Homo sapiens: one gene and its partners. The protein of the gene in region 1 purifies or fractionates together with the protein of each later gene. This does not show direct contact. Each region holds a gene or a part of one and is shown on either strand. Other genes may lie near its edges. The genes, in order: LRRN4CL, SFXN2, CTNNA2, NFXL1, SLCO4A1, SOAT1 and ARL8B.

What was found.
Region 2: the proteins of LRRN4CL (region 1) and SFXN2 purify together in Homo sapiens (affinity purification with mass spectrometry; one large-scale study listed by BioGRID and IntAct). This does not show direct contact.
Region 3: the proteins of LRRN4CL (region 1) and CTNNA2 purify together in Homo sapiens (affinity purification with mass spectrometry; one large-scale study listed by BioGRID and IntAct). This does not show direct contact.
Region 4: the proteins of LRRN4CL (region 1) and NFXL1 purify together in Homo sapiens (affinity purification with mass spectrometry; one large-scale study listed by BioGRID and IntAct). This does not show direct contact.
Region 5: the proteins of LRRN4CL (region 1) and SLCO4A1 purify together in Homo sapiens (affinity purification with mass spectrometry; one large-scale study listed by BioGRID and IntAct). This does not show direct contact.
Region 6: the proteins of LRRN4CL (region 1) and SOAT1 purify together in Homo sapiens (affinity purification with mass spectrometry; one large-scale study listed by BioGRID and IntAct). This does not show direct contact.
Region 7: the proteins of LRRN4CL (region 1) and ARL8B purify together in Homo sapiens (affinity purification with mass spectrometry; one large-scale study listed by BioGRID and IntAct). This does not show direct contact.

What each region holds. Positions count from the first base shown.
Region 1 is NC_000011.10:62,686,183-62,690,684, forward strand, and holds LRRN4CL (LRRN4 C-terminal-like protein precursor), read right to left. Parts: upstream 3,349-4,502; 5' UTR 3,245-3,348; intron 2,332-3,244; 5' UTR 2,327-2,331; coding exon 1,610-2,326; 3' UTR 224-1,609; downstream 1-223. Other genes in the region: BSCL2 (seipin), read right to left, coding at 4,185-4,339, 4,430-4,502.
Region 2 is NC_000010.11:102,720,678-102,724,725, forward strand, and holds part of SFXN2 (sideroflexin-2), read left to right. Parts: intron 1-4,048. UniProt on the Homo sapiens protein: Mitochondrial amino-acid transporter that mediates transport of serine into mitochondria. Involved in mitochondrial iron homeostasis by regulating heme biosynthesis.
Region 3 is NC_000002.12:80,645,792-80,649,454, forward strand, and holds the end of CTNNA2 (catenin alpha-2), read left to right. Parts: intron 1-1,793; coding exon 1,794-2,081; 3' UTR 2,082-2,989; downstream 2,990-3,663. UniProt on the Homo sapiens protein: May function as a linker between cadherin adhesion receptors and the cytoskeleton to regulate cell-cell adhesion and differentiation in the nervous system. Required for proper regulation of cortical neuronal migration and neurite growth.
Region 4 is NC_000004.12:47,900,897-47,904,944, reverse strand, and holds part of NFXL1 (NF-X1-type zinc finger protein NFXL1), read left to right. Parts: intron 1-1,621; coding exon 1,622-1,752; intron 1,753-4,048.
Region 5 is NC_000020.11:62,652,041-62,656,088, forward strand, and holds part of SLCO4A1 (solute carrier organic anion transporter family member 4A1), read left to right. Parts: exon of another isoform or gene 1-146; intron 147-4,048. UniProt on the Homo sapiens protein: Organic anion antiporter with apparent broad substrate specificity.
Region 6 is NC_000001.11:179,296,623-179,300,670, reverse strand, and holds part of SOAT1 (sterol O-acyltransferase 1), read right to left. Parts: intron 1-4,048.
Region 7 is NC_000003.12:5,166,848-5,170,895, forward strand, and holds part of ARL8B (ADP-ribosylation factor-like protein 8B), read left to right. Parts: intron 1-3,655; coding exon 3,656-3,736; intron 3,737-4,048. UniProt on the Homo sapiens protein: Small GTPase which cycles between active GTP-bound and inactive GDP-bound states.

The DNA of each region.
Region 1 (4,502 bases):
CACGCCTGTAGTCCCAGCTACTTGGGAAGCTGAGGCAGGAAAATCAGTTGAACCCAGGAGGCGGAGATTGCAGTGAGCTGAGATCGTGCCACTGCACTCTAGCCTGGGCAACAGAGTGAGACTCCATCTCAAAAACAAAAAAAAAATCAAAAGTATGTATATTACTCTGAAAAATGGGTGTGTGGACAGTGACTTGAAAGGAATCATAAACAATAAAAATTACTTCCTTTTAAAGGTCCTTTAATGTTGTTATAGTGGATATGCAATAAACACAAATGGAGGGTAAAAGGGGGGGGAGATTCCTTGGTATTACTGTCGTTTTTGTTTTGTTTTACCTAGCAAGAATATAAACTTATTCTCAAAATCCTACTGAAGCCACTCACAGTGACAGAGCCATTTTTAGGGTGCATGACATGGATCAACTAACTACAAGCAATGGGCCAGTGGCCTGATTTGTAAGGCCCACAAACTAAGAATGGTTTTTACATCTTTTTTCTTTTTCTTTTGAGAGGGAGTCTTGCTCTGTCACCCAGGCTGGAGTGCAGTGGTGCAATCTCCGCTCACTGCAAGATCCGCCTCCCGGGTTCACGCCATTCTCCTGCCTCAGCCTCCGGAGTAGCTGGGACTACAGGTACCCACCACCATGCCCGGCTAATTTTTGTATTTTTAGTAGAGACGGGGTTTCACCGTGTTAGCCAGGATGGTCTCGATCTCCTGACTTCGTGATCTGCCCGCCTCAGCCTCCCAAAGTGCTGGGATTACAGGCGTGAGCCACCGCGCCCGGCCGGGTTTTACATCTTTAAAGAAGGGGGTCTGCCTGGGCACAGTGGCTTATGCCTGTAATCCCAGCACTTTGAGAGACCAAGGCGGGTGGAGTACCTGAGGTCAGGAGTTTGAGACCAGCCTGACAACATGGTGAAACCCCGTCTCTACTAAAAAAACACAAAAATTAGCCGGGCATGGTGGTGGGCGCCTGTAATCCCAACTAATTAGGATGCTGAGGCAGGAGAATCGCTTGAACCCAGGAGGTGGACGTTGCAGTGAGCTGAGATGGCGCCATTGCCCTCCAGCTTGTGTGACAGAGGGAAACTCCTCAAAAAACAAAAAACCAAAACAAAACAAAATAAAAAACAAGGGCGTCTGGCTGTGTTGCCCTGGCTGGACTGGACTCCAACTCCTGGGCTCAAGAGATCCTCCCATTTCAGCCTCTGGAGTAGCTGCTACTATAGGTTCGCATTACTAAGTCAGGTCGTTTTTACATTTTTAAATGGTTACAAAGGTCATATAAATACCCACATAATAATATCCTCCATTTTATCCTCTTAAACCGCAAAGGTTACATTATTTATTATCTGGCCGCTTAAAAAAAAATTGGGGGCCCCTTTCTATTCCTTCCCAGACCTCAGCCAGGAAACAAAGCGCCAAGTACCGGACCTAAACAAGCGCTCAGTCCTGAGAACCATGACTCCGCCGTGGCCCTGGAGCCTGGGGCTGGCTCCCAGCTCGCCGTCCAGCCCTCCCTGGAGGCAGCGGGTTTTCCTCTTTCCCGGGGGCCAGGCTGAGCGCCCCAGGTGGGGCTGTCTGTGCCCGAGATGCCCCCAGGCCCCTTTCAGAGCGCCCCTGCGGCTCGGGCGGCGGCTCGGCGCGGGCAGCCCCAGCGATCGCGCAGGCAGAAGTGCCACACCAGGGCGGCACAGCTTAGCAGGGCCAGGGCCGTGCCCACCCCGACGGCCGCGTGGACCAGAGTGCGGGGGTTGGGCGGCACCGCAAGGCGGCTGCAAGGCCCGAAGGCAGGGATGTCGGCCCCCTCGAGGCCCTCTCCTCCAGCCTGGGGCACGCGGCTTGCCCCGGCCTCGTTAGCGGCCACTACGCAAACGACATAAATGCCCCCTGGCTTCAGCCCCTTCAGTTCGGCTCTGCGGACCGTAGCGTTCAGCGGGGGCCCCTTCTGCGCAGCCTCGCTGCCGTCCCAAAGCAGCAGCCAGTAGTGGAGGACCGGGGAGAAGGGGGCACACCAGTGGACCACTGCGCGGCCCTCTTCGGCCGCAATGCGCACTTCTCCCATGCGCGGCGGGTCGGGCGGCTGGGCGGGGCTGGAGAGTCCTGGGCACAGGCAGGCCGCCGGCCCGACCCTCTGTAGCTCCTTGCAGGGCACCTGCAGGTGTCGGCAGTGGTCGTAGTCGCAGGGGACAGCCGGCAAAGGCGGCCACGCCGTCTCAGTCTCATCTGCCTCCTCTTCTTCAAAGTCTTGAGGGGCCAAGGGCTGAGCTCTGGGAACCAAGAAGGTCACGGCCAGGAGCCACAGAAGGCAGGGAGAGCCCAGCATGGAGACTGGAAGGGAAGGGGTGGATAGATAAAGCCTGTTCAGCCCAAAAGCCTGCCATGCCCTCTGCCTGGACACAATCTCTGGAGACAGGAAAATGCAACTGGGGATCAGAAGAGGAAAGAAGTTGGAATGAGGCAGACACACTCATTTGTCAACCAACTTCTGAGTCCAGGCTGTGTGCTTGGTTTCAGACAAAAAATAAAACATGATCTGACACATGAGACAGATGCATGATCAGCATGTGTTAAGTATTAGAAACAGTTAATGAATAAACAAAGTGCTGAGGGAGAGAAGAGGAGGACATGATTTACTTAGCCCAGGGAAGAACGGTAGGATATTTACTAGCTGCCACCCAGAGAAAAGATCTAAGCAAAACAAGTAACAAAGCCGGGCCCCTAGGCTGATGCCTATAATCCCAACACTTTGGGGAAGTCAAGGCAAGAGGATTGCTTGAGGCCAGGATTCCAAACCAGCTGGGGCAACACAGAGAGACCCCATCTCTACAAAAATTAAAAAGTATTTAAAAATTATTAAAAAGTTAAAAAACATTAAAAATATACTGCACATGCCTGTGGTCCCTGCTACTCAGGAGGATCACTTGAGCCCAGGAGTTCAAGGCTGCAGTGAACCATGATCGCCCCACAACACTCCAGCCTGGGTGACAAGAGTGAGACCTCAACTCAACAAAAACATGTATCCGTCAGTGACACAGGCAAAAACCCAGAAAGGAGACAGAGTTGAGAAAAGAGAACAGAATGGAGAAATATTGTAAGCACAGCTGTATTTTTTGAAAACAAGAGAAAAAAATAGGGACGCTGGAATCCTCCCTCCCCACCTGCTATCTGTGCAAATCCTGTCCAAGGAGTCCTGGCCCCTGCATGCCTCCCTCCTCCTCTCTGGCCCATAGCAGCTCCTCACCAGTGGGTAGGCCTTGATGCAGCGGGAATCCACCAGCTGACGTCTGTGGGTGTTAGGCTGAGGGATCCCCAAGATCTCAGGCTGTGCTGTCAGGTTGTATCTTCAACTTCAATGCCGTTTGGCTGGAAGCTTTTATAACCTTCGACTGTGATGTCACCACCTAGCTCCCCTCCTCCTCCCCCCACCTCCCTGGTGATTGCCAAAAAAGAGGGCTGCTCCCTTCAGAGGGACTGAGTCACGGGGCCAGGGATGGGGAAAGCCACATGCAATGGTTTCAGCTGGAGCCCAGGATGCCTGGGTTCTGGAAGGGGAGTGGAATGTGGAAAGCAGCCAGGAGCTTAGAATCCGAAGGCTGAAGTCATACAACGGGATGGGGAGGGGAACATAGAAGGCGGCCACCTGGCTGATATTAGAGGAAAACAGCTGCGAACAGCACGGGCCTGAGCCGCAAAATGCTGTTTTGGTAAAAATCCTACCACATCCATGGCAGTCATTTCCTGTCTTCTGCCTCCCAATGGACAGAGAAAGGGAGGAAGGGAGGAAGGGAGGGGTGTAGAGGGGGCCAGAATGATGTCTCCCAGCTCTGCAGACCTGCCCTACACCATCCCCCTCCTCTGGGGGAGATGAAAGTCACATGCAGGGAGTGGGAAAGCTTGCTAGGGGCCAGGATAGCTTCTCCCTCCTTGGACTTCCTAGGCTTATGAATGGAAACATCTGTGCTTAAAATAGCCCAGGTCTGGAGGCCTTCCCCTGGACAAGAAGACCTCCCCTCTAATGGCGGAAAGTGAGAGATGCATGGGGGACACAGGGTGTTCAAATGGCCCTGAACCCATTTCAGAGTCAAGGAAGAAGCTGACACAAAATAGTTTATTGAAGGAAAAACGAGGGGAGAGGAGTCAGGTGGGAAAGTGCTGGAATGTGAGGAGTCTGCCCCTTTTCTTCAGGAACTAGAGCAGGTGGGGCGCTGTCGGAGAGCACCCCCAGCAGGTTCAGAGCTGCCCAGAGTCTCTAGGACAGGGGCAGAAGCAGAAGCAGGAGCAGGAGCAGGCAGGTTGGCCTCCGTCAGCAAAGCTGCATCTTCCCAGGAGCCTGAACCTGGGCCAGGAAAGGGAAAAACAAAATCTCAAATGGGATATTAGATTAACCGGGGGCCCCACCCAGGTCACGCTGCAGGATGCCCCTCACCATCACTGGCCTCAGGCTCTAGCTCCTCTTCTCCGCTCAGGGGCTGCTGATCTGGTTTCTCCTCCTCGGACAG
Region 2 (4,048 bases), on another chromosome or scaffold:
TTCTCCCTCAAAGCCAATTTTTCTGTGCTCTCCCTGTTAGCACCTATCGCCCAAGTCAGAAACCCTAGGTATCACTCTGGATATTTGTCATGTGTCAACTTGGCTAAGCTAAGCAAGACTCCCGGGATTCCCTCTCTGGTATATTCCAGTTATAGTGGCTACCCAGGAGCACACACACACCATCTTCCAGCTCTTCAGACAAACAGTAATCTAGGTGCTGCTGTGAGGGGATTTTGCAGACCTAATTAAATTCCTCAATTGTTTGGCTTTAAGTTAATCAAAAGGGAGATTATCCTGGGTGGCCTGACCTAATCAGGTGGAAGCCCTTTAAAGGAGGGCTAGAACACCCCTGAACCCCCTCTGAGGTTCTGGACTCTGAGCCATTACCCGCGTTGCTCCCTCTCCCCTGGGATGGTCTGTTGCTGGCCGCCTGCCCTGCTGACTTCAGGATTGCCTAGCCAACAGCCACAGTTATGTGAGCCAATTCGCTAATTCCTTGTGATAAATCAATTTCTATATTTTATCAATATTATATTACGTCAGCATTATATATATTTAGGCCAGGAGTGGTGCATGCCTGTAATCCCAGCACTTAGGGAGGATGAGATGGGAGGATTCCTTGAGCCCAGGAGTTTGAGATTACAGTGAGCTATGATTGCACCACTCCACTCTACCCTGGGCAACCAGCTGAGACCCTGCCTAAAAAAAGAAGAAAAAATTATAAAATCTATATAGATAGATCAACATATATTTATAACATATAAAGTTATATATTTATATATGATTTTATATAGCTATATGAATTATTTATGTTTATATATTATTTTTATATGTTATATTTAAACGTAATTCATGTCTATATAAATAAATGTATATATAAATTTATATATTATAAATATATGTTGCTATATCTATAAATTTAAAAAATTATATATTTATATAGTTATATAATTTATATATTTAGAAAATATATATTATAGTATACAAATATATTTTAGAAATATATAAAATATGTATATGTGTGTGTCATAGCCAGGTGCAGTGGCACACACCTGTAATCCTGGCACTTTGGGAGGCCAAGGCAGGCAGATTGCTTGAGCTCAGGAGTTAGAGGAACTCCATGTTGCCCCATGTTATGTTTTGGTATCTACCTGTCTGTCTGTCTGTAATCTACTGATTCTGCTTCTCTGGTTGAACCTTGACTGATAAAATGTTCCTCTTATACCTATTGCTTAGCAGACCTTAACATTCCGCTTCTTTGAAAGATTCTCTCCTGTTGGTCTCTCCTCTGAGTGCACGTGGGTTCATTTGAGCCCTACCTCTTCTTGCCTGGATTACTGGGGTTCTCGTCCAGCTGGTCTCCCTGCATCCCGTGAGGTCCATCCACATCCTGTTTATTCTCATGACTACCCAGTTTGTTCTTAGTAAACTACATATCTGATCTTGTCACTCTTCTTCTTAAAGTCTTTCAATGACTCCCTGAAGCTTTCAGGCAAACATTTAAAAGCGTCAGCTTTTTTTGTATGACTCCATTTTCTCTCCTCTCTTAGCATATCAATTATACTTCTTTTGAAAACCTTTTTAGTGGTTGCCCAGGAGTCTGCAATGTACATTTATGACTAATCCAAATCCACTTTCAAATAACACTATACCACTGCATGGAGTGTGCAAGTACCTTAGAATGGAGTCCTCCCAATTCTCCCCTCCTGTCCTTGATATTACTGCTGTCATGGATTTCTCTGATCCATAAACTGTAATCACCAAATACATTGTTGCTACTATTGTTTTAAACAAACGTATCTGTTTGTTAACTGTTAACAGTTCAGAATAAGAGAAATAAAGATTTTTATTTGTTTGTTTGTTAGTGTTTTTTCCCAGACAGGGTCTCACTCTGTCGTGCAGGCTGGAGTGCAGTGGCACGATCACAGTTCACTGCAGGCTTAGCCTTAGCCTCCCAGACTCAAGCAGTCCCCGCACCTCAGCCTCCCAAGTAGCTGGGACCACAGGCACATGCAACCACGCCTGGCTATGTTTTTTTCTTTTTTAATTTTTATAGAGACAGGGTCTCACTCTGTTGCCCAGACTGGTCTCAAACTCCTGGGCTCAAGCGATGCTCCTGCCTTGGCCTGCCAAAGTGCTGGGATTATAGGTGTGAACCATCCCACCTGACCAGAAGAACTTCTTTTAACATCTTGTAAGTCAGGTCTGCCAGTGACAAATTTCCTGTTTTGTTTGTCCAAGAAAGTCCTTTTTTTTTTTTTTTTTTTTTTTTGAGACAGGGTCTTACTCTGTCACCCAGGCTGGAGTGCAGTGGCTTGATCTTGGCTCACTGCAGCCTCCGCCTCCTGGGCTCAAGCATTCCTCCCACATCAGCCTCCCCAGTAGCTGGGACTGCAGGTGTGCACCACCACACCTGGCTAATTTTTCTATTTTTTGGTAGAAAAAAAAATACAAAATGAGGTTTCACCATGTTGGCCAGGCTGGTCTCAAACTTTTGACCTCAGGTGGTCCACCGGCCTTGGCCTCCAAAGTGCTGAGATTACAGATGTGAGCTACCATGCCTGGCCGACTAGAAAGTTTTGTTTTTTTTTTTTGACAGAGTCTCACTCTGTCACCCAGGCTTGAGTGCAGTGGCGTGATCTCGGCTCACTGCAACCTCTGCTGCCCAGGTACAAGCGATTCTCCTGCCTCAGCCTCCCGAATTGCTGAGATAACGGGCACCTGCCACTGCGCCCGGCTAATTTTTGTATTTTTAGTAGAGATGGGGTTTCACCGTCTTGGTCAGGCTGGTCTCAAACTCCCGACCTCAGGTGATCCAACCGCCTCGGCCTCCCAAAGTGTTGGGATTACAGGTGTGAGCCACTGCGCCTGGCCCCAACTAGAAATGTTTTAAGGGATATAAAGCAGTTAGTACTTGAGATGATTCTTCTGTAAGATATGGGATAGGTGGAAATGGGTAACGACTAACAGAATCAGATGGTATGCATCCCCAAATAGTAATTCCAATGATCTAGGAAGACCAACATTCCCACACCATCCCTACCACCACAGACTCAGTGTTTCTCAATGAGAGACAGAATTTGTGTATGGAGGATCTGAGTCCAAGCCCTTCTATTAGTATAATTGCATTAATATTATTTGTTTCTTTTTTTTGTTTTAACTTTTACTTTAGATTCAGGGGTACACGTGCAGGTTTGTTACATAGGTAAACTTGTGTCACTGGGGTTGTACAGATTGTTTCATCACCCAGCTACTAAGTTTAGTACCCATTAGTTATTTTTTCTGATCCTCTCCCTCCTCCCACCCTTCACCCTCAAGTGAGCCCCAGTGGGGTCTGTTGCTCCCGTTTTTGTGTCCATGTGTTCTTATCATTTAGCTCCCACTTTTAAGTGAGATATTTGGTTTTCTTACTTATAAATGTGATATTTGGTTTTCTGTTCCTGCATTAGTTTGCTAAGGATAATGGCCTCCATCTTCATCCATGTCCCTGCAAAGGACGTGATCTCGTTCTTTTTTGTGGCTGCATAGTATTCCATGGTGTACATATACCACATTTTCTTTATCCAGTCTGCCATGGATGGGCCTTTTGCATTTGGACAATTTCTACTGACACGTGTTCAGGCTCACTGATTCTTTCCCTGGCCATGTCCAGTCTACTGATGAGTCCATCCAAGACTTTCTTCATCTTTGTTACAGTATTTTTGATTTCCAACATTTCCTTTTGATTCTTTCTTAAGAGTTTCCGGCTGGACGTGGTGGCTCACGCCTGTAATCCCAGCACTTTGGGAGGCCGAGGTGGGCGGATCACGAGGTCAGGAGATCGAGACCATCCTGGCTAACATGGTGAAACCCCATCTCTACTAAAAATACAAAAAATAGCTGGGCATGGTGGTGCACGCCTGTAGTCTCAGCTACTTGGGAGGCTGAGGCAGGAGAACCACTTGAACACGGGAGGCAGAGGTTGAAGTGAGCCGAGATCGTGCCATTGTACTCCAGCCTGGTGGCAGAGCAAGACTCCGTCTCAAAAAAAAAAAGATTTTCCATCACT
Region 3 (3,663 bases), on another chromosome or scaffold:
TGATTTTGGTATACGTGCATTTTGTATGGCATAATAGAAGTGATCAAGTAAGTGGGTTACTCCATCCATTTGGTTGAGTTAATTCACAAAGCAATTATATAAAACATCTTCCATTGTTTTCCCCAATGGTCAGACTACAAGCTTTTCTGGTGATGGAAAAATTGAGCTCATTTGATTGACATTTTTAAAAACACAGCGCAACATTAATTTAGCTTAAATAAGGGATATGGAACAAAAAGCAGCCAAAGGAACAGTATCACAGTTGTGTTAGATACAACTTCTGATAACCTCAATACTGCGTGGGACATATTTTGTTAATAAGAAATGATACGAAGCTAAAGTGAATGCCAGTCACGTCAGATGGAAGAACCATAAGATCTACAGTCTCTCAGTTTAAACACTTTCTTAGTCACCTAGCCCCCAGAAGGCTTAATGCAGCTACAGTTCATGAAGTTCATGAATTACAGGCTACACAACAAATAATCTCTCCAACTAGGAACAGCATACTTAAGAACATCTTTGCTTCCTTCAGTTAACTGTAATTGATATATCTCATTAGTTGATGTTACAAGAAGTTTGATGAAAGATCAGACTATGCTCAAACATCCCTGAGGCTGGAATGATATTTGCAGTTCAGCTGTTAATTCTTTTCTTTCACTAGCTCACATGTAGACTCCTGGCTGATGGAGAGTCTAGGAAATGCATTTTTGAGCCTCACCAATCCTGAGCTCAGGATATAGAAATAGTGTATAGATAAATAGGTACTTCCATTGGTTGGGCTATAACATTGAGACATAACCCCAGCATCTGTGATGCAGGCAGTGAAGCAAGAAGGTTGAAGAAGATATTGAATGATCTAGTATACAGTACATACCACACTAACTACTTAAAGACAGAAAAAAGGTAACCCAAAATATTCCTGGCCTAAAAGTCTGGTGATGGGCCTCTAAACCTATTCTCAAGTTGTGACTTGTCTTGGCATTTTTAAAAGCCATCCTATCCAACAAGGTGACAGTACAGATGAGTAGTATCTTTAAAGACTAAAACCTGTGCTAGTTACTGGACCTCTGCATGTATCAGCTCTCTCATTCTAAAAGGGCATGACGATAATGCCTATATTATAGAGTTGTTAACAAGAGCTAAGTGGGAAAATACAAATTTCTCATAATAGTATTTGGCACATAGTAAATACTGAATATTTCATTAATGCATGTATGAGAAGGTCTCACTGAATGCTATGAGATCCTGACATAAGTATCAGTATTTATATAGGAGGTATACTGAGGACCTGTTAATAGTTAAATTGATACTCCAAGCTCAATTAACACCTCATAGAAGCAAGAACACCCATGGATTGTTCTTCTGCCTAAATGACTGTATCCTCACCAACCCTGAGCTCAAGATACAGAAATAGCCTATAGATAGATACTTCCATTTCTTGGGCCATAAAATTGAGAGGTAACCCCTTATAACTTTTTTTCTTTAGTGTCTGCCAAATGCTTGTCCAACATTTGAGTAAATGTCACCATTGCTAATTACCCTAATGTAATAATATGAGATGTTCTACTTTGGAAAACTTTTGTTACCTTGGAATTCCTACCTGCTAAGATGAGGGCTTTGCCATTAGCTGTATTGAGATTTTAAAAACCTTAACTTGTGATAATTTGCTCCTTTTCAGCAATACTATTTATTTGCACAAGGAAAACATTATTTTAACCGTGAAAGTACATCACCATTTTGTGAATTTGGGGCCTCCATTAACCCACATGTATCTCATTCTTTTCCTACTCTAGCTGGACAGTGCCACATCGCTTATCCAGGCAGCTAAAAACCTGATGAATGCTGTTGTCCTCACGGTGAAAGCATCCTATGTGGCCTCAACCAAATACCAGAAGGTCTATGGGACAGCAGCTGTCAACTCACCTGTTGTGTCTTGGAAGATGAAGGCTCCAGAGAAGAAGCCCCTTGTGAAGAGAGAAAAGCCTGAAGAATTCCAGACACGAGTTCGACGAGGTTCTCAGAAGAAACACATTTCGCCTGTACAGGCTTTAAGTGAATTCAAAGCAATGGATTCCTTCTAGGACGATAGGTTTTAACAAGAAAGCTTTTTCTTTCTTTTCTTTCTTTCTTTTTCTTTTTAATTCCATTTTTGTATGCATACCTGCCAGCTCGTATGCCTCTGGCATGGGGAAATTAAGGGAACAGTGTCTGTTTGCATGTAAGATGAGATGAGATCAATACTACTGATCCATCTGTAGCCTGGGAAGGAGACAGGACATTCCTGTACTAAGGTGGCACAGAGCTGTCCTTTGCAACATTCTCATAAAATTGGGCACAGAGTTCGCATTGGCGCAATATTTATGGGAGTGGGAGGGATGGGGAAAATAAACTTAACTCTACAAAAGCAAACTCTAATGCATGCAAGAATCATTAGGTTGGCAGGTATATGCATAAGTGAAAAATCTGGAAGTGTAATGGTAGAACATAAAACTTGTATTGCTTCTGTTTCAGTGCAAAAATGTACTAGCCAATACGCTTAAGTGTGTGGCCCATGAATTGAACAATTTAACCTTGAAGTCTATATCCGTGATATTATGTCGATTTTTAACTGAGGGGAAATTAACTAGTCCAGCCTAAAATGCTTCTTTTAATCTGCATTCTGTTTCCTCTTCTAGTTGTGCCATTACTAGTGATCATGTTTTTTTCCCCCCTTTAATGAAAACAATAAACATCTATTTGAGACAATTAAAATCCTTCTGGGGGCACTGGAAGCACAATACGGTGACCAATCTTGCTTTCATTTTTTTTTCTTTTTAATTTGAACCATGATTTTGCTAGAAATAGAAGGCCCAGTGGTGGAATATTAGAGGGAAGGAAACTGACAACGTGTGAAAGTTAGAGGCAAATACATAGGTGTAGCTTGGAGTGCTGGTATCTAATATACCATTGTATTCACTAACTAACTCAAAATAAACACATTTAATCTTGACATCTCAAGTATGTTTTCTTTTTTAATTTTTTAAGTATGTACTTAATAAAGATTAGAGCATCATCTTCCTGAAAATTCATTAAAAAAATGCATTATGTTTTGGTTTTTAGAGATTAGTAATAAAATTTTAGAGATTAGTAATAAAATAGATGATATCCAAATAATTGTCATTTTTAGAGTTCACATATTTATTTTGTGGTTTGTTTTTCCACTTGTTTTCATTCACTTTCATACTGCATTGAAAATGACAGTCTTTCTTTGTAATAGAAGAGCCAATTAATTTAAAAATATTTTACTCATTTTAGACTTTTTCCTTTTAAGTAAGTTGGAAAAACAGGACCTCTGTCCCATTATTAAAAAGTGGTGATAGTATTTCAACTATGAACTGAGAAATGGAGAAAAAGTCCCCAAATAGTCACCTGAATTCTCCAAACTCCTCTCATTGGAATGATTGCTACAAGTTATCACATTACCATGTCTCCAAAAGGCTTCTAGTAAATATGCATGTTTCTTTCTTAGCAAAGAAGTGATGATAACACAATGGGAGTTATGAACACCTAAGCTTATGTGCAAGATCCCAAAGGGAAGGAGCTATAAGGGAGTTGTGGAAGGAGAAAAAGCTTAATCTAAAATCTTATTTAGAAATGATTCTTCTCAAACCCCTGCTTACTACT
Region 4 (4,048 bases), on another chromosome or scaffold:
AAGTGAAATGTTAAATGTACTATATTTTATTACTTTTGGAAAAAGATACGGTCCCTATCTTCAAGAAAGTAGAACTTGGCAGTAACACTTATGGCTTAATTAGTTAGCGTATCCTGTGTTAAAGGCATTTTGGGAAGTGGTGAGGGTCAGTCGGGAGAGAGATTCAGACAAAACTCATGTCCTTGGAGGAGATATGGCGTAGTGATAAAGATATATATGTGTAAATTTAAAAGGGCATTAATGAAGCAATTAAGAAGTGATTACTGAATGTGAAAGACTCAACATTTAGACCTTAGATTAATTCACTGCTATTATAGCAGCATTGCCTAGAGAAAGCAAATCAAGTCAGATGAAATAGTTTGGTCATGTAGAGTGAATCAGAAATTTAACATGCTCTGGTTGGGTAGAAGAGTATAGCAGATACAGATGCCTTTTGTGCCTAGAGTCACATCTAGTTGGTTTACTCTGATTTCAGCTGCAGGGAATGCATAGTCTCTGCATGCAGATAGAAACCCACTTTAAACATTTGCTGTGTGTGTGCGTTTTTTCCGCCTCTCAATTTTGTTCTTGGAAATTGACTTAGCTAGTACATGGGTATAGTGCAGAAGCACTGGGGAGTTAAAGCCCCTTGCAGCAACATTGCACCACAGGGAGTTGGTAGGTGAATGCCCCAACCTCCTTTCCATTAGCGAGTGGGGCTGGGCAGTCCAAGGCGTGTTTTACATGGTTTTACAGAGGGTCCCCTGGAGGATTGAGCTTCTGTGGCCCTTAGTGGTAATCAGCTCAACCATATGCCATTCATTGGTTATTTCTTTTTCCCTGTCTAGTCCCCTTACTCCTGCATCCAAGTTCTTAGATACCGCTTTGGGGGTAACCCAAACTAAGAAGTCGGCTGTTTAATGCTGTTGTTAGCTCATGCGATATGCTACATGTCTGATTTTATCAAACAGTTGTAAAATGTTATAAGGAAAGGGGAACTGATTTTTATCAGTTTTATCAAAGTGTTTGGCAGGTTTTAAAAATTAATTTAGTATTATTTCTTAAGCTTTTAAATTATGTATATTCTTGTTTTTTGATTACCTAATTTTTAGAATTTAGCATTAGTTAGGTGTTAGACTAATAGGTTTTATATAACAAAAGGGCTGTGTAGAGATATATGTACATATTTATGTTTAAAGATTCTTTTGTAGTGTTATTTATACTTGGAAATAATCATCCAACAAGAAATTTAAGTACGTAAGTCTACATGGTGTAATGTATAGCTATAAATATGCTTATAGAAAAGACTATAAAGTTACATTTCAGTTATTATAGTATGACCTCATTTTTTAAAAGTATGAAAAAAATATATATATATAAATTTGGAGATTGTCCAGAATGTTAGCAGTAATTATTTCTAGCTGAATGAATCTGTTTGACTAATAATAATTTTCTTCGAAGTATCCTACATTTAAATGCATTTCCCATGAAACAGTTCTTCTGTTATACTGGAAGGAAAGACCTTTTTTCTTTAATCCTTAGGTAGCTCTTGAAAATAGTTTAGTGTGATACTCATTTTAAATTATTTTACAATTAACAAAGAAAAATTAACATATATTAACTTCTGATACATTTGTCTTAGGTTTGGAGCTGTTCGGGATGTTTCTGTATATTTCACATGCCCTGTATCCAGAAGTGGGCTAAAGACAGCCAGTTTCTTGTATCTTCTGTGACTGATGATGATTTTGGAAAGAAAGATTGTCCCTGGCCTTGGTAACTTTTTCTAATTAGTTGGATTATTATTATTATTTTCAGATGGAGTTTTGCTCTTGTCACGCAGGCTGGAGTGCAGTGGCGATCTTGGCTCACTGCAACCTCCACCTCCTGGGTTCAAGAGATTCTCCTGTCTCAGCCTCCTGAGTAGCTGGGATTATAGGCACCTGTCACTATGCCTGGCTAATTTTTTGTATTTTTAGTAGACACAGGGTTTCACCATGTCTGCCAGGCTGGTCTTGAACTCCTGACCTCAGGTGACCCACCCCAAAAAATCCCAAAGTGCCAACTAGGCTGGCACGCCACCACGCCTGGCCTAATTGGATTATTAAATTGTAGAATAAATGAAGATTGTAGATTCTAAGTTGCTTTATTGGTGGTTTCAATATCCATGTTGGGCTTTTAATTAGTCATTTGGTGTGTGAAGATGTGGAATCTTGATAAAGTCTTGTTTTTTTCAATTTGAATTTCTATAACTACTAGTTCCTTTTGATAACTAATAAATCATCCAGACTTAATTTTTCCTGTGCAAAACAATTCCTTAATTATCCTTTGAAAGGACTTTCAATTTTCTTTAGGACTGAGAATCATTCATAATTGTGATCTTCTTGTCCAGAATTCTATGAGTATGCATTATTATTACATTGTACAAGACTATCATTTAATGTATTTTGATTATAAGATTCCCAGTTTTATCCTCCCAAATCTCAAAACTGCAGGTGTATATTATACAATATCATTTTTTTACATTTATTAGTTTTGCTTATTATTGATGATTATTTGATCTGGAGAACTTTTGTTATATTTCCAGAAAGAGTTGGAGAGTAGAATTTTATATCTCTGCTAAGTAAAGACAATAAGAAATTTATTCATATTGGCTGCCCAGAGAGGTAGATTGACTGTCAAAGTAATGAAGCATAAGCTTCATGGGCTCTGTGTGGTCACATTTTGTAACTTTAGTAACTAATTTTATGTTTAAATTTTTTTTTTATTTTAATTTTAATTTTTTTTGAGACAGAGTTTTGCTGTATTGCCCAGGCTGGAGTGCAGTGGTGCGCTCTTGGCTCGCTGTAGCCACTGCTTGTCGGGTTCAAGCGATTCTCCCGTCTCAGCCTCCAGAGTAGGTGGGATTACAGGTGCCTGCCACCATGCCTGGCTAAGTTTTGTATTTTTAGTAGAGATGGGGTTTCACCATGTTGGCCAGGCTGGTCTTGAACTTCTGGCCTCAAGTGATCCACCCACCTTGGCCCCTCAAAGTGCTGAGATTACAGGCATGAGCCACTGCGTCTGGCCAGTGGTGTAGTTTTTAAAAACATTTAGATGTGCTAGTTACTTTTAGAAGAGTATGTAAAAATAATTCTCAGCAATCTGTGAGAGATTTTATTCTCCTGTTACCAGTGGGGATATTGAAGTTAATTGAAGGGAAATGACTTCTGACTCCTCACTCTTAAGTAGTGGAGCCAAAATTTGAAACCTAGGATTTCTTACTTTTAAATTCAGTGCTTTTTCTATTCTTCCACCTGAGTTATCTCTTATGACCTGGCTTTTAGAAATATTATTTTTCTTTTCATTGAATACACACTTTTTGGAAACTGTTTAACATTTCAAAGTATATTTGTTTTGCTCCTGCATATTATTTACTGGTGGTGGAGGAATTTTAGTGTCTAATAGGTACGGAATTAAGCCAGGTTTTAGTTTAGAGATTTAAACCTTATGTATATATTTTTTTACCCTCGCTCTTCTCACTTCTGTTTTAAGTAGTCGTTTTGCCACAGAGGAGGAAAGGATCAGTTAAAAAAAATGTACTGTTAACTTCTAATTTAAAAGGAACAACAGTTTAATCAGCTGTGCCATATACTTTGCATTCCATATTTCATATTTTTTTAAGAAAATAAATGACCATTCTGGTTAAGAACCCATTTTGTTTAATCCTCATCAAGATGGAGCTAGAACTTGGTAAAATGTTAATAATTTTAAGTTATTTTATGGAAATAAAAAATTTAAAATATAGGTTTCTACTAAGATACTGCTTTTTAATGAAGAAGATCTAGCATAATTACATTTCATTGTTGGCATCCCATTATTTAAAATAAAACTCATGCGTTTGCACATATTACCCTCACTGGGCCAGTTCAGTTTCAATGCTGATGGGCAGTGTTAAGGTATGTTGAGTTGCCTATTAGTCATCCATACCCACGCTTATTAAAAATACATATCCCCCTCCACACTAGCTTTTTCTTTTAATAAAAAAAAATTGAACTCTTCCAACAAAGCGCCAGTTACTTATTCCACAGAC
Region 5 (4,048 bases), on another chromosome or scaffold:
CCCGCCCCACACCCCCCACCCCCGCTCGGCCCCCCTCCCCGTGCCAGCACGTGCAGCTAGGCGGAACCTCTGAGCACTCTCCCGCCTGCGTCAGGCTGTTCCTTGGCCCTGTTGAGGCTCCTTCCCTTCATGTTCTGGCCCAGCCCGGAAATGAGGTCAAGTTTCTGCTATTTATGTGTGTGCGTGTGCACGTGTTTGTGTGTGTGGGTGGACCTTGACCTCCAGGCAGTCCTCAGGGTAGTTCTTGGCTCTGTGTTCCTGCACTAAGAAAAACAATGCGAGGGAAACACACCCACAGGCTGCCTGGGGAGTCTGCGTGGCTCTGAGCCTGGCCTGTCCTCCTCCGGGCCTCTGAGGTTGCTTTCTGTTTCGGCGGCCGGCGGCCGGTGGAGCCCTTGCGCCTCCTCGTCAGTCCCGCCCCGGGGCTCTTGCTCCTCCGGCTTTTCCGCTGACTCCTGGCATTCGAGTTCTTGTGTTACACATGCTCCTGGGACGTCATCCTTGTGACAGCTCGCTTCAGTAGAAAGCCTGTGGCTCGTGGGTGGCCGTGGGTGGCTCTCTGCCCCTTGGGGAGGCGTGGAGCATTGCTCTTACAATATGAATGTCTCTCCTTCCACGCACACTCCCTTTCTGACGCAGCAGGTCCCAAACCAGCCTGGCCTGCCAGCTCGTGGATAGGTGTTGGCATTGTAAATAAACCCCCGGGTGTGGCCGCGGGCACCCAGGGAGCAGGCCCCAGGCATGAATGCTGTGGAATCTCTGCTGTCCGAGGCCTCCAAATACGGCCTCAAACAGCCTCCCGGCAGTGTCCAAGGTCAACAGCGGCTGCACGTGAGTGCCACACGAGCGTGCACGGCTCTTTCAGTAGGTGTCAGAAGGCAGCTGTGACGCAGACGCTTGGCTCTGGGGCCAGACTGCGGGGGCTGCATCCTCATTGCCACCGGCGGGCTGTGTGGCCTCGAGCAAATGACTGACCCCCCTGGGCCTTCTTCCCCTACTGTGAGGCCTGGGACGGTGCCTGGTACACAGCTGGTGCTCAGTGTGCACAGCGGGTGTTAGCACCCTGCCACCCAGCGGGATTCTTCACAGCAGCTGCCCGCCTTCGTCCCAAGGAGCCTGGGGCTGAGGCATCCATTCGCTGAGAGGGCGAGACCTCCGATTCCACAGAGGAGCCCTGTGGGGACCGCGCCTCGGCAGAGGACGTGGCGGGAGGACCCAGAGCCCAGCTTTGGGGGCTCAATCCTGAGATCCCTGTGGCCTTGGGGAAGGGGTGCTGGTACCGCCAGATCTCTCCAGACGTAAAACAAGCCTTGCCTGGACCTGGGGGAGATCCCATGGCCTGCTCCCGGCCTGACCATGCTGGGCCCGGTTTATCTGCCTTCACAGATGAAGTTGCCCCTTTATTAAAAAACAAAACAAAACAAAAAAAGCCAGCAATTTGTCATCCCCAAATGCTGTAGTGTCTGTCAGCATAGGCCTGTCCCGGGGCTGGTTCTCACTGAGGCCCCTGTGTCCCCTCGCAGCCCCATGGCGGATCACCGGCTGCGCCTCCGCTCCCACCCGCCACGCTGACCTTAGAGTTAGTGTGTCTGTTAAGCTCTAACTCTGCCTCAACCCCAAGGTCATCTCTCTGGGCCCTCCTCAGGCCTCTGTCATCTCCCAAATTCGGGGGCATATGTGACACCTGTTTGCCTCCGTGGGGGCTGCTGTAAGAAATGACCACACACCAAAGGGCTTAAAAAATAGTTTATTCCCAGCCAAACACTGCATGTTCTCACTCATAGGTGGAAATTGAACAATGAGAACGCTTGGACACAGGGCAGGGAACATCACACCCCGGGGCCTGCCATGGGGTGGGGGGAGGGGGGAGGGATAGCATTAGGAGATAAACCTAATGTAAATGATGAGTTAATGGGTGCAGCACACCAACATGGCACATGTATACATATGTAACAAACCTGCATGTTGTGCACATGTACCCTAGAACTTAAAGTATAATAATAAAAAAAAATAGTTTATTCCCACCAGCTCCGGAGGCCAGGAACCCAAAGTCCACACAGGCTGTGCTCCCCCTGGGGCTCTGAGGAGGGTCCTTCCTGCCCCCAGTGGCTCCCGGGGCTCCAGGTGGTCCTGAGAGCGCCACGCCCGTCTCTGTCTCTGTCTGCAGGTGGCCTTCTCTGTGTCATCTTCTCCTCTAAAAATGCACCTGTCACCGGGTTTAGGGCCCACCCTAATCCAGGATGATCTCTTCTCAGATCACTTGTCACATCTGCAAAGACGCTTTTTCCAAATAAGGTCATGCGCTCAGGTCCCAGGTGAACGTGACTGCCCGGGGAACACGGGGGGCACCGGTCCGCCCACCCCAGCCCCAGCGCAGGCCCAGTGAGCAGACTCTGTGAGGAGCTGCCAGGAGGATCCTGGGGTATCACCCAGCCCAGGTCCCCACGGGACTGCCTGCTGTCCCTGCATCTCCGTGCATCTCTGCGCGTCGCCGGCTGTGGCTGGAAGGAGACCCCAAGGCCGGATACTTAGGGCTTCGGACTCTGCAGAGCCCTGAGCATGGCTGATGTGGCCCCGGCCTCAGCCTGATGTCAGTGGGCAGCATTTCTCACGCTTTGTGTTTTGGAGCCTCCCAGGTTGTGATGTTTCGTGGGCTGAATAAGCTTCCAGAAGCGCCGGGGTCCCTGTTGAATGTGATACAATGTGGCCCAATATGGACACGCCACCGCCCACCCCACCTTAGCTCCACAGTGAAGACAAAAGACCCCAGACTGTGGACTTAGACAACAGAAACGGGCCCTCTCTTACTGCTGAGGACCAGAAATCAGGGATCATGGTGTCTGCAAGGCCGGCCCCCCTCGGAGGCTGTGAGGGAAGGAGCTACTTCCGGCCTCCCTCCCGGGCAGGGGAATGGTCTGCACATCCACATTCCCTTTTTATAATATGGACACCGGTCAGATTGGATCAGGGCCCACCCAATGTCCCTGTTTAACCTTAGTCACCTCTTTAAAGGCCTGAGTTTCAAAAACTGTCATATTCGGAGGTATTGGGGTCAAGGCTCCAAGACAGCTTCTTTTAGGGGTCACAATTCAGCCATAACAGGAGGTGCCCCAGATGGCAAGCACCTTGAGGTCTGCGAGAAAGACCCTCCCAGGGTGGGGGCGGCACAGGTGTTCTGTATCACAGCAGCCCCGGGAAGGACCCTCCCAGGGTGGGGGCGGCACAGGTGTTCTGTATCACAGCAGCCCCGGGAAGGACCCTCCCAGGGTGGGGGCGGCACAGGTGTTCTGTATCACAGCAGCCCCGGGAAGGACCCTCCCAGGGCGGGGGCGGCACAGGTGTTCCGCATCATAGCAGCCCTGTTTATTCGCCGGTTTATTTCTGACGGGGAAAGCCCTTAAGATGCAGAGAGGCTACAGCCACCTGGGTTCCCCAGAAGGCCTTGGGCAGTAGGGGGGAGCTGTTGCTCCAGGAATTGGTGTGGGGAGTGAGGCGGTGCCCTGTGGAGCCTCGGGATGGTGGGGAACAGGGCTGGTGAGGGCAGTGGGGCAGGGGCAGCGCAGGGTTCAGAAGGAAGGTGGCACGTGGGCACGTTCTCCTGGTAACTGGTCTACATGGCTGCCGACTGCAACTCCTGTTAGCCACAGGCTGACCCAGCAGCGGCCGGAGCTTGGCGGCCGGGGGTGTTTCCGGTGCTGGGGGCTCACGTGGCCCAGGAGGCTGCTTCCAGCTCATTCCTGCACCTCCCAAACTCTGCACGGAGAGGAGCTCCTTCCTCACGCCAAAGGGTGCAGAGAGCTGCCGGGTGTGAACTTAAGGAAGAACAAGGTCAGGCTCCAGGACCAAGGTGGAGTCCATCAGGGCCACTTGGCTGCAAATGGCAGGGGACGTGGCTGACACAGCGAGCGGGGCCAGGGCGGGGTGACCTGGGACCCCAGTGTCTGACTCGGCCTCTGCGTCTCAGCTCCACTCTCCACCGCGTGGCCCCATCTCAGTAGGCCTTGCCCCCGTCACAGCCCTGACGCCACACCGCTGAAGCGGCAGCTTC
Region 6 (4,048 bases), on another chromosome or scaffold:
TTTTCTTAATTTTTGTACTAAAATATCCTTTTCTGTATAAAAGGATGAAATATAGTACATGGTGGGTTTGGTTGTTTTTCAACTATCACAGCTTGGCAAAGTAAAAATCTGACAAATCTAGATCGGCTTTCTTCTAATTATTTCTGAAATCAAACAAATGAAACAATTGTGGAACAGCAGATGAATATATCAAGTAGAAATGTTATGATATCATAAGATCTAATTAAGAGGAACTTAAGGGAAAAGTCAGGGCTAATAAATCACAAGACGATGCCCAACTTACAATGGTCCAATTCTGTGTAAAAGTGACAGAGGAAGCCACAAGAGCATCTATCTCTTCATCAGAAATGATGAGAGAAGTAAGAACTGAAAACTAAACTTTGAGGGACAGCCTCAAAGTAGAGGAAATCAGGGAAGAAAAAGAAAGACACAAAAGGAACCAAGATGTTTCAGTAAGAGAGGAATTTTACAAGGAATAATGGGAATTTTTTTTTTTCTGGCCAGATGAACAGAGACTTTTTTTTTCTGGCCAGATGATGGGGAATTTAAAGTAGATACTCTTTTAAAGAGCATATAGCAAAAGTTTAAAGCATAAAAGACAGCAAAATGAAGCCGGGTGCGGTGGCTCATGCCTGTAATCCCAGCACTTTGGGAGGCTGAGGTGGGCAGATCATGAAGTCAGGAGATCAAGACCATCCTGGCTAATACAGTGAAACCCCATCTCTACGAAAAATACAAAAAAAAAAAAAATTAGCTGGGCATGGGGGCAGGCGCCTGTAGTCCCAGCTACTCGGGAGGCTGAGGCAGGAGAATGGCATGAACCCAGGAGGCGGAGCTTGCAGTGAGCTGAGATCACACCACTGTACTCCAGCCTGGGCAACAGAGCAAGACTCCGTCTCAAAAAAAAAAAAAAAAAAAAAAAAAAGATAGCAAAATGATTAAAAAATAAATGCCAGATTAAAGTTTATTACCCAAGCCATATGAAACAGTATAGCACAATGCAATATTTCTCAAAGTAGAATAATAACAGCTGATTTTTTTTAGTGCTTATGTGTTTTACATGTATTATTTTCATCTCAACAGAATCAAGACAGATACTATTGTTATTTTCCAAATATTCTTTGGCCACCATAGTGTCCCATATACTCTTCCCTGTCTATAGAAAGCTATTTCTCCTCTGCCCTTTTTTTATGTAGCTAACTCCTACTCAAGCCTTCAAAGAATCACAGCTACAGCAGTAATAGAATTAATACCAACAGTTCTGATTTAATGAGCACCTATTATGTACCTCTAGGCACTGTGCTGCTAAACTTTTTACATTACATTTAATCTTTACAACCTTAGATAAGTATTATCCTCATTTTACAGATGAGTTTAGGGAAGTGATTTAACTTGTCCCAAATCAAATAATTCTCCAACAGCAGAACTAGAATTCAAAACAAAGACTATCAGATTCTACAACCTGCCCTCTAATCGCTAAACCGCCTCCAACTCACCCTCTGAAGTTTCCTTTACCACCACCTCTCATCTCATCCTCTCTGCGGTCCCACTACACTGAGCATCCTGTCACATGTTACATTGTCCTATAATCAGAGAGCAATACTCTCTGTCTCTTACATTAGGCTTAAGTTCTCAAAGATAGGGATTACATAGTATTTTCTGTAAGACTCCCCCAAATCTAGTGTGGAGTACCTGGAGTACAACAGGCAGGCATTAAGAAAGAAAGCAAATGTATCAGTTAATATGTAACCAATTATTCTAAGCACAAGACAGTCCCCAACTTATGATGGTTCAATTTAAAATTTTTCAACTTTATGATGGTGCAAAAGCAACATGCATTCTGTGGAAATCATATTTTGAGTACTCATACAACTATTCTGTTTTTCACTTTCAGTATAGTATTCAATAAATTACATGAGATAATGAACACTTTATTGTAAAATAGTCTGTGTTCAATAATTTTGCCCAACTGTAGGCTAATATTAAGTGTTTGGAGCATATTTAAGGTACACTAGGCTAAAACTACCCAAAAAACATTTAGCCCGGCGTGGTGGCAAGCACCTGTAATCCCATCTACTCAGGAGGCTGAGGCAGGAAAATCACTTGAACCCAGGAGGCGAAGGTTGCAGTGAGCACAGGTCGCACCTCTGCACTCCAGCCCAGACAACAGAGTGAAACCCTGTCTCCAAAAGAAGAAATATAAAAAGGGAGTCCTTGGTAATAAGATGGTTCCTCAACCATCAAGCTACTCTAGAGGAAACCTTACATCAAAAGCTAAAACAGGGCCGGGCATGGTGGAATACATCTGTAATCCCAGCACTTTGGGAGGCCGAGGTGGGCAGATCACCAGGTCAGGAGATCGAGACCATCCTGGCTAGCCTAGCACGGTGAAACCTCGTCTCTACTAAAAATACAAAAAATTAGCCAGGTGTGGTGGCAGGCACCTGTAGTCCCAGCTACTCAGGAGGCTGAGGCAGAAGAATCGCTTGAACCCGGAGGTGGAGGTTGCAGTGAACCTCAATCACACCATTGCACTCAAGTTAGATCAAGTCACTTCACAACTTAAACCCCTTCAAACATCCTAAGTCCTTACCATGATCTAGTAACTTCTGCATTGCCTGCCACTCACCACCACCCCCTTAAACACCATCAATCTTTTTTTTTTTTTGAGACAGAGTTTCACTCTTGTTGGTCAGACTGGAGTGCAATGGCACGATCTCAGCTCACCGCAACCTCCGCCTCCTGGATTCAAGCGATTCTCCTGCCTCAGCCTCTGGAGCAGCTGGGGTTACAGGCCACCACACCCAGCTAATTTTGTATTTTTAGTAGAGATGGGGTGTCGAACTCCCAACCTCAGGTGATCCGCCTGCCTCGGCCTCCCAAAGTGCTGGGATTACAGGTGTGAGCCACCGCGCCCGGCATTTTTTTTTTTTTTTTGAGACGGAGTCATGCCATGTCGCCCAGGTTGAAGTGCAGTGGCATGATCTTGGCTGTCTCATTTTCTCTACTCATTACTTTGGCCTTCCACTGTTTCTTAAACAAGCGCACCGGCTCACGCCTGTAATCCCAGCACTTTGGGAGGCTGAGGCGGGTGGATCACAAGGTCAGGAATTCTAGACTGGCCTGGCCAAGATGATGAAACCCCGTCTCTACTAAAAATACAAAAAATTAGCCAGGGGTGATGGCAGGTGCCTGTAATCCCAGCTACTCGGGAGGCCGAAGCAGAGAATTGCTTGAACCCAGGAGGCGGAGGTTGCAGTGAGCCGAGATCGCGCCACTGCACTCCAGCCTGGGTGACAGAGCTGGACTCCGTCTCAAAAAAGAAAAGAAAAGGACAGGACATGGGATATTTCACAATTGGGGGACATTAATAGCTATGATTTGATTACATGCACAGTTTTAGGAGGAAGGACAAATAAATATATTGGAGTACACCGCCAGTAAGTTGAGGAAGTGAAAACAGTGATCATAAGACTAGTCTCTCAAGAGGTCTAGCAGTGAAGGAATCTCTAGCGTTTAGGAAGCAGGTAACAAAGTGCTGAGTGCAGTAGGTGTAGCACATATCTCATTTAACATGTCCATTTTTAAAGATGCAGGAGATTCAGAAATGCTAACAAACTTGTTCAAAGTCACAGGTAACATAAAGCTATTCCCCCCCAGGTAACAAAGCTAAGTAGACAGCTATTTATACAACACACTGATTGAAAAAGAATTTCTTAAGAATCTAATCTGTGCACGCAATTACATAATGTTCAGTGTGATAAGCATCTAACTTATCTTAAGAAAGCAAAACAAAAAGAAATGATTTGAGAAACAAATGAACTTGGAAAGACATGTCAACTTTAGCCTGCCTCCGTGTTCCCATTAATACAGCTTTCAAAAGAGCCCATAAATCTGTATCACAAATACTGAGTGCCTACTCCAGGTAAAGAACTTTGCCACATCACCCTTAGATTCAGTGGTGGAAAGGGGACACAACTGTGGATAGAATTTACAATCCAGAGCAAAAAAAATTTCCCTCTGGCACCCAAAGGTTGGCCCTAACACA
Region 7 (4,048 bases), on another chromosome or scaffold:
TTTAGCCTTTGGTATGCTAATGAATTTGGGAAAAGCCACATTTTTCTGCTGTTGTAGCATTCATCTCCTTGCTTACCTGTATTTTAAATGAACGGCCTATGAATAGAACATAAAACCATAAACGTTAGGGCTGGAAGTGACTGGAGATACTCTTCCAATTTCCTTTTTCTAGATAAGGAAGCTGAATCCCAAGGTCACATGACTTGCATCTAGTTAGTAAGTAGCATAATTGTTAATAAGATTCCCTGACTTTGAGAATAATCTTCTTTTCACCATCTTATTTTGCTTCAGATTTATTTTGTTCAACCAAGTTCCAGGTACACTGCCTTGCAACTTTGGCTTATAGGAGGGTAAGCATTATGACAGTGACAGCTCCATCTGCCATCACAGAATCACAGCGAGTGCCACGTGTGATCATGGCATTTAAGAAGGCAGGCATGAAAGCATACAGTAGTCCCTCTTATCCATGGTTTTGCTTTCCAGTTTCAGTTACCTATGATCAACCTCTGAAATAATAATGACTCTAAAGCAGAAGAGTACTGTGCCTAATTTATAAATTAAGCTTTATCATAGGTATGTATGTATTGGGAAAAACATAGTGTACATAGGGTTAGGTTCTATCTGTGATGTCAGGCATCCACTGGGGTTCTTGGAACGTATCCCCCAAGGATAAGGAGGGACTACTTACTTTTATTTTTCTACTCTTTCCCCCCCAAGTCAGATTAACTCATAATTATCCAGATCTTAAGAACAATGTGACTTTAGGCAAGTGACTTAAGCTGACTTTGCCTTGTTTTTCTCATCTGAGAAATGAAGATAATGCTACTCATTTCATTGGGTTGTTATAAGGATTAAACTATGCTGATGAATGTTAAGTGCTTAGTATTACGTGTTTGTTAAATTTGTTAAAATAAGTAGAATGATATACTACTAAGTAGTATTTTCTAAACATCTGTTTCCCAAACCTGTAGTCTTAATTAAGCAGCTTCTTGACAGCTCAGACATAAATTCTCAGGTATCTAGTGCCCAGTTGCCAACTGAGTGGTTATAGTTGTTCAACACAAGCTTTGAAAAGTGATGATTAAGATTGGACACTAGGAAAGAAGTAGAAAATACTTCCAGGTCCATAAAGTAATTATTGCACAAAATTCATGCATCAAAGTTAAGCACTTTATTGGCAGAAGAGTTCCAGCATTTTCCTCCTTCATGGCCTATGTTTTTTTTGAGACATGCTCTCACTCTATTGTCTAGGCTGGAGTACAGTGGCACAATCTTGTCTTAAAGTCATATCGTTCTTAAGATCTCAACCTCCACCTCCCAGGCTCAAGCAATCCTCCCACCTCAGCCTCCCTAGTAGCTGGGACTACAGGTGCATATAACCATGCCTGGCTAATTTTTGTATTTGTAGAGAGAAGGTTTTGCCGTGTCACCCAGGCTAGTCTTGAACTCCTGGGCCGCAGCAACCTGCCTGTCTCAGCCTCCCAAAGTGCTGGAATTACAAGCTTGAGCCACTATGCCTGGCCCTAATAACTCTTAGTTTGTTCAACAAATATTTATTGAATATCTTGCTCTACTCAAGAATTTTGGAGTAAAAACTCAAGGACTTGATTAGCTAATTTTCGGTTTTTGCATGTTAGCAGTAGCAGCTGAGTTACAGGAAAGTTGTTAGGGTTGGCCAAGGTAAAGAAAAGAGATAAATGAACCCCTGAGAAAGCTCGGGGGTACCCCAGTATACTGCAGCCCCCTACATTATTTTATTATGAAGTGCTGTAGTTGATGTTCATAATCATAAAACTTTACCTCCAATAGGGAGGGCCCTTGAGTGTTATCTAATTTAGTTTTCTTGTTTTGCAATAGATAAACTGACCCAGAAACATTGAGAACACATTAAATCATGTTCTATAGGTTGTTTGTGGGAAGTTAGCCAAGTGTATATTGCCTTTTAGAAAGCTTTCCATGCAAGCTAGTTGTAAAGTTTGGTACCTAAAAATTTTAGCTACTATTTTTCCTGCCTCTTCATTATGTAAAACACTTAATGATATGAAATAAATGAGCATTATCTCACGTAGATCTCTCCTCAGAGATTAAAGCCTATCACAATAAATATAATTACAATGAAAATATTTAAGAAAAATATAATCACGATTTAGCCATGTGACCTTGGGACTCTACTACCTGTTCTATGAAATGATAATGATAATTGTCCCTCCCTGTATGATGACTAGTTTTTTAAAAATTTTGGTAAAATACATAAAACACAAAGTATCATCTTAGTCATTTTTAAGTGTGCAATTCAGTAGTGTTAAGTACATTCACATTGTGTAACCATCACCACTGTCCACTTCTAGAAATTTGTTATCTTTTCAAACTGAAACTCCATACCCATTAAGCAAATTAATATCTTCTGTCTTTATGAATTTGACTATTTTAGGTACCTCATAAAGTGAAATACAGTGTTTGTGTGTGTGTGTGTGTGTGTGTGTGTGTGTGTGTGTGAGTGTGTGAGACTTCTGGCTCATTTCATTTAGCAAAATGTCTTCATTTCTTTTGAGTGTATATTCAGAAGTTGAATTGCTGGATCATATGATAATTCTATTTTTAGGTTTTTCAGGAACTGCTATACCATTTTTCATAGCAGCTATACCATTTTGCCTTCCTGCCAGCAGTATACAAGAGTTCCTATTTCTCTGCATTCTTTCCAGTGCTTTCTGTTTTTTTTCTTTTCCTCTTAATAGTAGCCATCCTACTGGATGTTAGGTGGTATCTCTTTGTGGGTTTGATTTGCATTTCCCTAATGATTAGTGAGTCGAACGTCTTTTCATGAGTTCATTGGCCATTTATCTTTTATCATGGCTTACTTTTGATATAACTAGTTTAGATAGAATGACTAGATTTTCACATATAATCACATATGTGAAAGTCCTGAGAATTATAATGTCTTATATAAGTGAAAGTAGTGACTATGGCTGTGTTAACATTTTTTCTGAAGTTAATAAAACTCCACTGAACAGTTAAAAGAGGCACAATTCGAGTTCTGTATAGGAAGTTATTTGTACAGTTGGAATTCGTTGTGCTCAAGATTTAAGACAATTTTGGAATACATGTGTATGTGGCTAGCATAAGGCCATAGCAGACAATACTCATGACATTGAGATAAGTAACCAAAAAGAGAACAAAATTGATTACATAAAAGGAAAAACTTCTGTATGACAAAATATTTTATAAGCCTTATTAAAAGACAGACTTGGAAATGCTGTTTAGCAGTGAATTTTAATAGTTACTGTCAGAATAATTTAAATGCTGAAAGTTTTATTTCTGATCTCATCTACTTTGTGGAAATGTACATCTAGGTGAACACATTTAAAAATTTTCGTATGTATTTGTCATATAAAATTCTTTTAGCATAAGGAAATATGTAAAAAATTACATTAGTTTCAAAAATATCTTTTTTAGATGGAAGAATATATCTTTGTTGGGACAAAATAATGCATCTCTTCAAGAATTATGGCCATAAGGAACATGTTCTTAAAGTAGATTGTTACCAATGGTAAAAAAATATTTACTAAAATGGTTACAAATGCAATGTTGATATTAGAAGTTTATGCAGTGTCATTATAAGTGAGTAGCCTAACTTCAAATGTTTTATTTTGTTCAGTCAGGTCAATTCAGTGAAGATATGATACCCACAGTGGGCTTCAACATGAGGAAGGTAACTAAAGGTAACGTCACAATAAAGGTAAGTTATTTCTTGCCGTACGCAATTTAAATTGTTAGCACAGACCCCTAGAAATTTTTCTGTTAAATTTCTGTGTTTTTACTGAAAATTTGCAGTTTTTCAGTAATGAATGTGCATGTTTCAAAAGAATAGGTTTTTTTGTTGTTGTTTTTTTGTTTTTTTTTTGGAAACAGAGTTTTGCTCTTTCACCCAGGCTGGAGTGCAGTGTCGCGATCTCCACTCACTGCAACCTCTACCTCCCGGTTCAAGTGATTCTCCTGCCTCAGCCTCCAAAATAGCTAAGATGACAGGCTTGTGCCACCACACCCAGCT